2 separate regions of the Homo sapiens genome follow, and region 1 is linked to region 2. The links come from fine-mapping of genetic effects on gene expression. A gene starts in region 2. The other region holds a variant in brackets. All regions are shown on one strand. Distances are from middle to middle. Region 1 overlaps CYSLTR2 (cysteinyl leukotriene receptor 2). Region 2 holds the start of CYSLTR2 (cysteinyl leukotriene receptor 2).

Evidence for each region.
Region 1: its variant is fine-mapped to the expression of CYSLTR2 in whole blood (TOPMed, PIP 0.93).

Annotation. Positions count from the first base shown.
Region 1 is chr13:48,694,555-48,699,941 of GRCh38, forward strand. CYSLTR2 (cysteinyl leukotriene receptor 2) reads left to right here. Exons shown (of 5, transcript NM_001308476.3): 4 at 1,972-2,072. Among named protein-coding and RNA genes, the nearest start is that of CYSLTR2, 43 kb to the left of the region's middle. The variant G/A (reference allele first, on the strand shown) is at 2,957.
Region 2 is chr13:48,651,675-48,657,061 of GRCh38, forward strand. It overlaps CYSLTR2 (cysteinyl leukotriene receptor 2), which reads left to right and starts at 2,255. Exons shown (of 5, transcript NM_001308476.3): 1 at 2,255-2,343.

The DNA of each region.
Region 1 (5,387 bases), 43 kb after region 2:
CCTAGCCATGAACAGGGTCCCACATGTATGCATCATTACTGAGTCAAGGGTACTTGCTTAAGGCAGCAAGGACTTTTGAAGAATCTTGTGAAACTCCATTTTTGTCAATCCTTCAGAGCCCAAGACCACCAGAAACCCTCCTGTAATGGAACAAGTTGGCTTTATTACTAATTGCAACAAGGCTTTTGAAAGCCTTCTGTCATCTTCCTGGGGATCACCTCTTCAGGTGTACAGAGACAGCATAGGTAGGTTGTGGGGGAATGGAGAGGAAGGGGAGCTTCCCTAAGTGAAAACCTAAGTGTTTTCCTAAACACAAGCACCACTGAGCAGTTTGTAGATGGAATTTTGCAATCAAAATTGCAGGGTATTCTGTTCAAGCCACACCTTTTTTTCCCCTCCATTTGGAGATAATTAAAAATTCCCATGCACATGTAAAAAAAAAATAGAAAAATCTCTTGTACCCCTTCCCGCAATGGTAACATCTTGCAAGACCATGGTATATCAGAACCTGGCATTTTTTTTTTTTTTTTTTTTTTTTTTGTCAGAGTCTCACTCCATCACCCAGGCTGGAGTGCAACTGTGTGATCACAGTTCACTTCAGCCTTGATCTCCTGGGTTCAAATGATCCTCTCATCTCAGCCTCCTGAGGAGCTGGGACTACAGGCATGCGCCACCACGCCCAGCTAATCTTTTTCATTTTCTTTTTTTTTCCTTTTCTTTTTTTCCTTCTTTCCTTCTTCTCTTTCTTCTTTCTTTCTCTCTCTTTTTCTTTTCTTTCTCTTTTTTCTCTTTCTTTCCCTTTCTTTTTCCTTTCTCTTTATTCTTTCTTTCTTTCTTTCTCTCTCTCTCTCTTTCTCTCTCTCTCTCTCATAGAGATAGGGTCTCAGGTCTCACTATGTTGCCTAGGCTCATCTCAAACTCCTGCACAGCCCAAATATTGACATTAATACAGTTATGATGTAGAACATTTTTGTCACCATAAGGATGCCTCAAACTCCACTCTTTAGCTACCTCTACTTCCCTCCAACCCCCACCACATTCTTAATCCCCGGCAATTACAAATCTGTGTTCTCCATTTCTATAATTTTGTCATTCAAGGATGTTATATAAATGGGATCACTCTGTATGATTAGTTTTTATTTTCACATAGCATAGCTCCCTAGAGATTTATTCAAGTTACCAAATGTATTAATGGTTCACTCCTTTCATTGCTGAGCAGAATTCCATGGTATGCATGTACCACTGTTTAACTATTGAAGGCTATCTGAGTTATTTCCAGTTTGGGGCTATTACAAATAAAACTGCAGTAATCACTGACTTATAGGTTTTTATGTAACCATATGTTTTCATTTCCCTGGGATAAATGCCCAGGAGTATAATTACTGGAATGCATGGTAGTTGCATGTATAGTTTTTTAGGAAACAGCCAAATTGTTTTCCAGAATGACCGTATCATTTTACACTCTCACCAGCAATGTCTGAGTGATCCAGTTTCTCTGTATTTGATGTAGTCGCTATGTTTTATTTAGCCATTCTAATAAGTATGTAGTAATACCTCACTGTGGTTTTAATTTGCATTTCCCTAATGACCAACAATGTTGAACAATTTTTTATGTGCTTATATGCTATCTGTATATCCCCTGAAATGTTTGTTTCTATCTTTTGCACATTTTCTAATTGGAGTTTTTCATTTGTTTGCTTGTTTTACTGTTGATATTCAAGAGTTCTTTATATATTCTAAATAACCCTGTTTTGATAAGTGATTTGCAAATATTCTCTCCCAGTCTGTAGCTTGTATTTTCATCCTCTTAGCAGAGTATTTTGTGGAGCAAAAATTTATCATCTTGACAAGCTCCAATTTATCAATTTTTTCTTTTATGGATCATGTTTTTGGTGTCAATTCTAAGAACTCTTTGTCAGTCCTAGATCCCAAAAATTTTTTTCCTAAAAATTTTATAATTTTACATTCTAGGGAAAACTAGGTTCCAAGATGGCTGAATAGGAAGAGCTCCAATCTGCAGATCCCAGTGTGAGCAACGTGGAAGACGGGTGATTTCTGCATTTCCAACTGAGGTACTGGGTTCATCTCACTGGGGCTTGTCAGACAGTGGGTGCAGCCCATGGAGCAGGGCGGAGCATCGCGTCACCCAGGAAGCACAAGGGGTCAGGGAATTCCCTTTCCTAGCAAAGGGAAGCCATGACAGATGGTACCTGGAAAATTGGGACACTCCCACCCTAATACTGTGCTTTTCCAACTGCCTTAGCAAACGGCACACCAGGAGATTATATCCCGCACATGGCTCGGAGGGTCCCACGCCCGGCTCGGAGGGTCCCACGCCCACGGAGCCTCGCTCACTGCTAGCATAACAGTCTGAGATTGAACTGCAAGGTGGCAGCCAGGCTTGGGGAGGGGCATCCACCATTGCTGAGGCTTGAGTAGGTAAACAAAGCAGTTGGGAAGCTCTAACTGGGTGGAGCCCACCACAGCTCAAGGAGGCCTGTCTGCCTTTGTAGACTCCACCTCTGGGGGCAGGGCATAGCTGAACAAAAGGCAGCAGAAACTTCTGCAGACTTAAACGTCCCTGTCTGACAGCTTTGAAGAGAGTAGTACTTCTCCCAGCACGGAGTTTGAGATCTGAGAATGGACAGACTGCCTCCTCAAGTGGGTCCCTGACCCCCGAGTAGCCTAACTGGGAAAAACCTCCCAGTAGGGGCCGACTGACACCTCATACAGCTGGGTGACCCTCTGAGATGAAGCTTCCAGAGGAAGGATCAGGCAGCAACATTTGCCGTTCTTCTATATTTGCTGTTCTGCCGCTTCCACTGGTGATACTCAGGCAAACAGGGTCTGGAGTGGACCTCCAGCAAATTCCAACAGACCTGCAGCTGAGGGTCCTGACTGTTAGAAGGAAAACTAACAAACAGAAAGGACATCCACACCAATACCCCATCTGTAC[G/A]TCACCATCATAAAAGACCAAAGGTAGATAAAACCACAAAGATGGGGAGAAACCAGAGCAGAAAAGCTGAAAATTCTAAAAATCAGAGCGCCTCTTCTCCTCCAAAGGAATGCAGCTCCTTGCCAGCAACGGAACAAAGCTGGACGGAGAATGACTTTGAAGAGTTGAGAGAAGAAGGCTTTAGACCATTGGTAATAACAAACTTCTCCAAGTTAAAGGAGGATGTTCTAACCCATCACAAAGAAGCTAAAAACCTTGAAAAAAGATTAGACAAATAGCTAACTAGAATAAACTGTGTAGAGAAGTCCTTAAATGACCTGATGGAGCTGAAAACCACAGCACAAGAACTATGTGACGCATGCACAAGCTTCAGTAGCTGATTTGATCAAGTGGAAGAAAGGTTATCAGTGATTTAAGATCAAATGAGTGAAATGAAGCAAGAAGAGAAGCATAGAGAGAAAAAAGTAAAAAGAAATGAAAAAAGCCTCCAAGAAATATGGGAGGACTATGTGAAAAGACCAAAACTACGTCTGATTGGTGTACCTGCAAGTGACGGGGAGAATGGAACCAAGTTGGAAAACACTCTTCAGGATATTATCCAGGAGAACTTCCCCAACCTAGCGAGGCAGGCCAACATTGAAATTCAGGAAATACAGAGAACACCACTAAGATACTCCTCGAGAAGAGCAACTCCAAGACACATAATTGTCAGATTCACCAAAGTTGAAATGAAGGAAAAAATGTTAAAGGCACCCAGAGAGAAAGGTAGGGTTACCCACAAAGGGAAGCCCATCAGACTAACAGCAGATCCCTTGGCAGAAACTCTACAAGCCAGAAGAGAGTGGGGGCCAATTTTCAACATTCTTAAAGAAAAGAATTTTCAACCCAGAATTTCATATCCAGCCAAACTAAGCTTCATAAGTGAAGGAGAAATAAAATCCTTTACAGACAAGCAAATGCTGAGAGATTTTGTCACCACCAAGCCTGCCTTACAAGAGCTCCTGAAGGAAGCACTAAACATGGAAAGGAACAACCAGTTCCAGCCACTGCAAAAACATGCCAAATTGTAAAGACCATCAATGCTAGGAAGAAACTGCATCAACTAACAAGCAAAATAACCAGCTAACATCATAATAACAAGATCAAATTCACACATAACAATATTAACCTCAAATGTAAATGGGCTAAGTGCTCTAATTAAAAGACACAGACTGGCAAATCAGATAAAGAGTCAAGACCCATCAGCGTGCTGTATTCAGGAGACCCACCTCACATGCAGAAACACACATAGGCTCAAAATAAAGGGATGGAGGAAGATCTACCAAGCAAATGGAAAACAAAAAAAAGCAGGGGTTGCAATCCTAGTCTCTGATAAAGCAGACTTTAAACCAACAAAGATCAAAAGAGACAAAGAAGGCTGCTACATAATGGTAAAGGGATCGACTCAACAAGAAGAGCTAACTATCCTAAATATATATGCACCCAATACAGGAGCACCCAGATTCATAAAGCAAGTCCTTAGAGACCTACAAAGAGACTTAGACTCCCACACAATAATAATGGGAGACTTTAACACCCCACTGTCAACATTAGACAGATCAACAAGACAGAAAGTTAACCAGGATATCCAGGAGTTGAACTCAGCTCTGCGCAAAGTGAACCTAATAGACATCTACAGAACTCTCCACCCCAAGTCAACAGAATATACATTCTTCTCAGCACCACATCACACTTATTCCAAAGTTTACCACATAGTTGGAAGTAAAGCACTCCTCAGCAAATATAAAAGAACAGAAATTATAACAAACTGTCTCTCAGACCACAGTGCAATCAAACTAGAATTCAGGGTTAAACTTACTCAAAACTTCGCAACTACGTGGAAACTGAACAATCTGTTCCTGAATGACTACTGGGTACATAACAAAATGAAGGCAGAAATAAAGATGTTCTTTGAAACCAATGAGAGCAAAGACACAACACACCAGAATCTCTGGGACAATTTAAAGCAGTGTGTAGAGGGAAATTTATAGCACTAAATGCACACAAGAGAAGGCAGGAAAGATCTAAAATTTACACCCTAACATCACAATTAAAAGAACTAGAGATGCAAGAGCAAACACATTCAAAAGCTAGCAGAAGGCAAGAAATAACTAAGATCAAAGTAAAACTGAAGGAAATAGAGACACAAAAACCCTTAAAAAAAATCAATGAATCCAGGAGCTGGCTTTTTGAAAAGATCAACAAAATTGATAGACTGCTAGCAAGACTAATAAAGAAGAAAAGAGAGAAGAATCAAATAGATGCAATAAAAAATAATAAAGGGGATATCACCACTGATCCAACAGAAATACAAACTACCATCAGAGAATACTATACACACCTCTAAGCAAATAAACTAGAAAATCTAGAAGAAATGGATAAATTCCTGGAC
Region 2 (5,387 bases):
CAGCCTCCCAAAGTGCTAGGGTTATAGGGGTGAGCCACTCCATCCAGCCCACTTTATTCATTTTAATGAGATGAACATTAGTCAATTAATTGGGCTTTTTGGCTCACTGCAACCTCCACCTTCCGGGTTCAAATGATTTTCCTGCCTCAGCCTCCCAAGTAGCTGGGACTACTGGCGCGTGCCACCATGCCTGGCTAATTTTTGTATTTTTAGTAGAGACAGGGTTTCACCATATTGGCTAGGCTGGTCTCCAACTCCCGACCTCGTGATCTGCCCACTTTGGCCTCCCAAAGTGCTGGGATTACAGGCGTGAGGTCACTGCGCCTGGCCAATTGGGCTTTTATTGGAGAAGAATGAATATCTATAGTGACTGCTTGTAGAATGAAATGTTGTTTCAAGCTTTTTGCCCCCTAAAGATGAGAATGGTAATATAACATTTGTGTACTGTGAGTTCTAATTGGGATAAATAAAATACTAGAAATAGAATCCCAGACCCAGGAAGAACCTTGTCTTCAGAGGAGCAACCTTGGTCCCAGCCCCTTCTCCACAGCTGCATGAAGAAGCTGCACAGAAAACCACTCACCCTCACCCCTAGAAAGTACTCTTCCCAGCCCCTAGTAACCACTATTCTACTCTCCACTTCTATAGGATCAAATTTTTTAGCTTCCACATGTGAGTGAGAACATGCAGTATTTATCTTTCTATGCCTGGCTTAGTTCACTTAACATAATGTCTCCCAAGCTCATCCATGTTGCCACAAATGACAAATTTTGTTCTTTTTAAATCAGTAAATAGTATTCAATTGTGAATATATACCACATTTTTCATCCATCTTTCTGTTGATGAACATTTCGGGTGATCCATATTTTGGCTATTGTGAATAGTGCTACAGTAAACATGAGAGTGCAGAGATCTCAACAAGATTCAGTAACCTTACTACTGAGTATATATCCAAAGTATTTTATTCATTTTGATGCTATTATAAATGGAATAGTTTCCTTAGTTTCCATTTTTGGATTGTTTATTGTTAGTGTATATAAATGCAACTGATTTTTGTGTATTGATTTCCTGTCCTGCAACTTTGCTCAATTTGCTTGCTTATTAGTTCTATTGGGGTTTTGTGTGTGTGTGTGTGCATGGTATCTTCAGGTTTTTCTACATATAAGATTTTATCATTTGCAAACAGACAAAATTTTACTTATTTATTTCCAATTTGGATCCCTTTTACTTATTTTTCTTGCTTAATGTTACTGCAGCTTTCTATGCAGGAAACGAGGATTTGAACAGTGATGGAGAGATGAGTAATGGTTCGATTTGGAACATATTTTATGGGCAGAACAAATGGAACTTGTTGGCTCAGAAGTGGGTGGTGGAAGAAAGAGGGAAGTTAAAAGTGACTTCTAGGTTTATGGATGGATGAACTGGCTAAATTATTGTGGTGCCATTTGCTTAGACAGGGTAGATGGGGGGATGCAGGACTAAGAGAGGAAGAGAAAAGCTCCACCTGGGCCACATTAAATTTGGCCATGATTGTGGATCAGATAGGTAAAAGCAAGAGAAGGAGGGAAGAAGTCAGAACACAGACCTCTGGGGAAAGCTCACACGTAGAAAAGGGGTGGAAGAAGAGGCATCAGAAAGAGAGGCAAAGAAGAGCAATCTGAGGGGTAGAAAAAGAACCAGGAAAGTCAGAGAAAAAAGGGAAAAGTTTCAGGAAAGTGGCAATGGTCAACTATGCAAACAAGAGGGGAAGGAAGGTGAGGACTGAGAAAGGATTTTTTATGTAAGCAACAAGGAGGTTTTTGGTGACCTCTGACAGAACATTTTCAGCAGACTGGATAAGGTCTCTGCCTGAGTGCAAGTGAGCTGAAAATGCAAGTGAGTGAGGGAAGTGCTTTAAAAAAGTCTAAAGTGCTATGTGTGTAAGGCAATGTTGCTATTTCTGTTGCCATGGAAACAGAAACCATTTAGGAGAACTAAAAGCCACTTAAAATTCCTGACTCTAACCCATCATATCCGCTTGATCTCTTGAGAAAGATAATGACAAAAAACCAGTCATTAGAGGGGCAGGGCAATTTTAGGTTTCTTCTTTTTAGACATAGCCCCTAACTGGAAATTTTCACCCTTCTTGAGAAGGGAGCTTGCACTAACATCTACAATGGCTTCTAAAAAGCACAGATGACCTGCTACACTTCCTGACTTGCTTGCTATTGGTTGGCACTGTTCATAAATATAATTTGCTCTTTCACTTTTCTTTGAAATGAGCAACCTGAATTACTCGGAGGAGAAAGGCAGGAGAGATAGAGGCAGCAGAAGCCAGGGCAGCTGAAAGACAGAGACCTTCAGGTGGGCATTTTAATCTTTGTTTTGTTAATTCAGTGTTGAGCATCATGACTTGATGATCACATAATAGTCAGAGGAGTAATTTTTTAAAAGTAAATTTGTTTTGTTCTACTATAAATGTTATTTTCCTATCATGTACATGGTAGTTTAAAAAATACTGTGGAAGTATAAAAATGTTGAAAGAAGCCAAATTCTCCACCAAAATAGCCTCTATTGATATTTTGGGGATCGTCCCTTTGTGTGTGTGTGTGTGTGTGTGTGTGTGTGTGTGTGTGTGTGTGTGTGTGTGTGAGTGTGTGTGTGTGTGTGTGTATGCACATATAACTTTAGTTTTCATAGTTGCGTCCCTACACTATGGACAAGTTTGTATTCATTTCCTCCATATCAGTCTATGGTTTTTCCATGTTGCTGTGAATTCTTTGTAATCATAAATTAAAGCTGCTGCATATTATTGCATTGAGGAACTTTACTATACTTCCTCCATTTTTGGCTGTTATCCTCTTTTTCATAGTTTGGGTCCTTCTATTATATAAGATATATTTTTTCCATTCAGTGTCTTGTTTTAGGGGTAGAAGAAGTTAAATCTGAGCACATATATTTCAATGGTTTTGCTCAGAGGCACAATGAGAATGAAAGAGTATGTGAGATCATGAGCATATAATCTGTTCCTTACCCCACTGGGACCCTAATCAGTGTTTCTCAACCCTGGCTGCACATCTGGCCAGAATCACCCGACTCTGAGGAGATTAGAAAATTACCCCTAGAATAACTGAAGCTTAACTTTTGGAGATCAGTGAGTCATCTGCAGTATTTTATCTTGTTTTCCAGAAACTTCTCAGGTGGTTCTAATGGGTGGTCAGCATAAAAACAGATGACCTAGGTCATTCAAAATATTTTTCTGTCTCTGAAATATACCTGAGAGTAATATGTATTAGGAGAAAGGGAGGTATAATTTAAGGCAAGCCAACCAAATCTCCCTTTCAACACTACATAAATAATGCAAATTATAAAATAATTTGTGGGAAACATAAGACTTCTAGAAATTTCTATCATCTACTCAGCCACATAAACTCTTGAGATAAGAATCTACTTGTGTTTCGATTTACTAATGTTTTAAAGAGATGGATTTGTTTCCAGTGCTTCGGTGGTTAAAAGTTAGAGAAGTTGAGGCTCAAGTGTGTTCTAAATGTATCTGAATCACGCCCATATCTGCTAGAATCTACCAAGGCAGCCAGGCTTCCTTTTAAAACTCTTCAAGATTAAACACAAGGTGGGCATTTAATAGCTGGCCAGTTCACTAACACACTGTGGGCACAGCGAAGATCGATGGGATTGGATTTGGAGGCAGAAGGTGGCTCACTCTGGCTTTCAGGAGCCACATAGACATGGCATTTACCTTCTCTGGACCTCATATCCTCAGGAGGAAAGTGGATAGAGTTTATGCCAGGGCTGCGTTCTGGTTTCTCCCATCAGGGACTGAAAACAGAGCCACAGCGCCTAAACCACACTGAAGCATTTGCTGTTGCACTCAGCCTGCTACAGGCTAGGAATCATCCCAATGAGACCAACAGCATGTTAATCTAATTTCTTCTTGTTTTGACTCAGTGGAGAACACCTGTTTAGTACCTTCTTTAATGAATGTAAACATTCACATAGTACTTTACTATTTACAAAACATGTTTACAGGCATCAGTTCATTTGATCCACATACTAGCCTTAAGAACTGGAGGATGTAATTCTTATTTTAAAGATGGTAAAGATGAGACCAAGAGAACATAGGATCTTTCCCAGGTGGAACCAGAACTGGTCCAATCTGGTTGAGCCCAGGGCACATGGTCCTTTCTTACAACTTAAATAATAGCTATTGTGGGAAATTGGTTAAACAAATTTCATAATGTTTATATAATTGGCTATTCTGTATCCAGTTAAATGATGACATTGATGTTGTTAGTTGGCAAAGAAAGGTGATCATGACACGAAATAAGAAAAAAGCAAGATACAAACAGCATTATAAGTGTGCTCATTTTTGTTCAAAAATATTTGTATATATTTCAAGAAAGATAAAAAAACCATATATGCAAAATTTTAGCTATGTCTGGTTGGTGGTAAAGTTCATTATTTAAGTTTATTTCAGCTTGTATTACATTGTAATTTTTTTTTACCATGAATGTGTACTACTTGTGTAATAAAAATAAATAGAATTGTTCATGTGTTTCTGGTTGGCTCTTCTCCAGATGAAATGGCCCCATCTTCTTTCACTTGACCATAAAGAAGGCTCCTGTTTAATTATCTGAGTTTTGTACATTATTGTCACAAATCTTATTGTGATTGTTAGCTAGTACTGACTGAACTCTTCACATGTGTTGGGCACCAAGTTAATCACTTAACATCCATTTTTTTTTCATCAATACTCACTCCAGTGCTCCTTTGGCAGATGAGAGTTTGAAGCTCAGACGGCTGCAGTAATAAAAGAGACTAAAAGGCAGAGTTGAAACTTAAACCCAGGTCCCTTTTAACTCAAAAGCACATGCTTTCATTCATTATATCACTCTGCCTCCTATCCACCTGGGATCACATGAGCAGCCTCCATTTTGGAGGAAAGATGATATATTTTTTCAGTGTACTCATTGCTGTGTACATGAGTACATGATGGTTACCTTGGGCATCGTTAGCATTTCCTGTGTACTCCAGAATCAAAGATCCTTTCTGCTTTTCTATAGTTTGCTCTGTGCACCAGATATCTGAGGCACTCTAGTTCCCCAAGGGTAAGCCTTTAAGATAAAAGCCTCACAAGGGATTGTGCAATTACCCAATGAACTCTGGCTAATGCGGCAGCCAAATTGGATAATACAAAGAAAGGCAAGCATTTTGCTGTGGGTGCTCAGCGTTGCTAGAGAGCTTTTTGAAATCCATGTCAGAAACCCCTAGCACTGTATTTCTTTATTTCTCAGGGTATTGGCCACTGCCTCCTTTGTACTGCAGTTACTTATGTACAGTATGTTCTATTGGACCAAGACTCTGACATTGGAGTCATTGCATAGAACCTA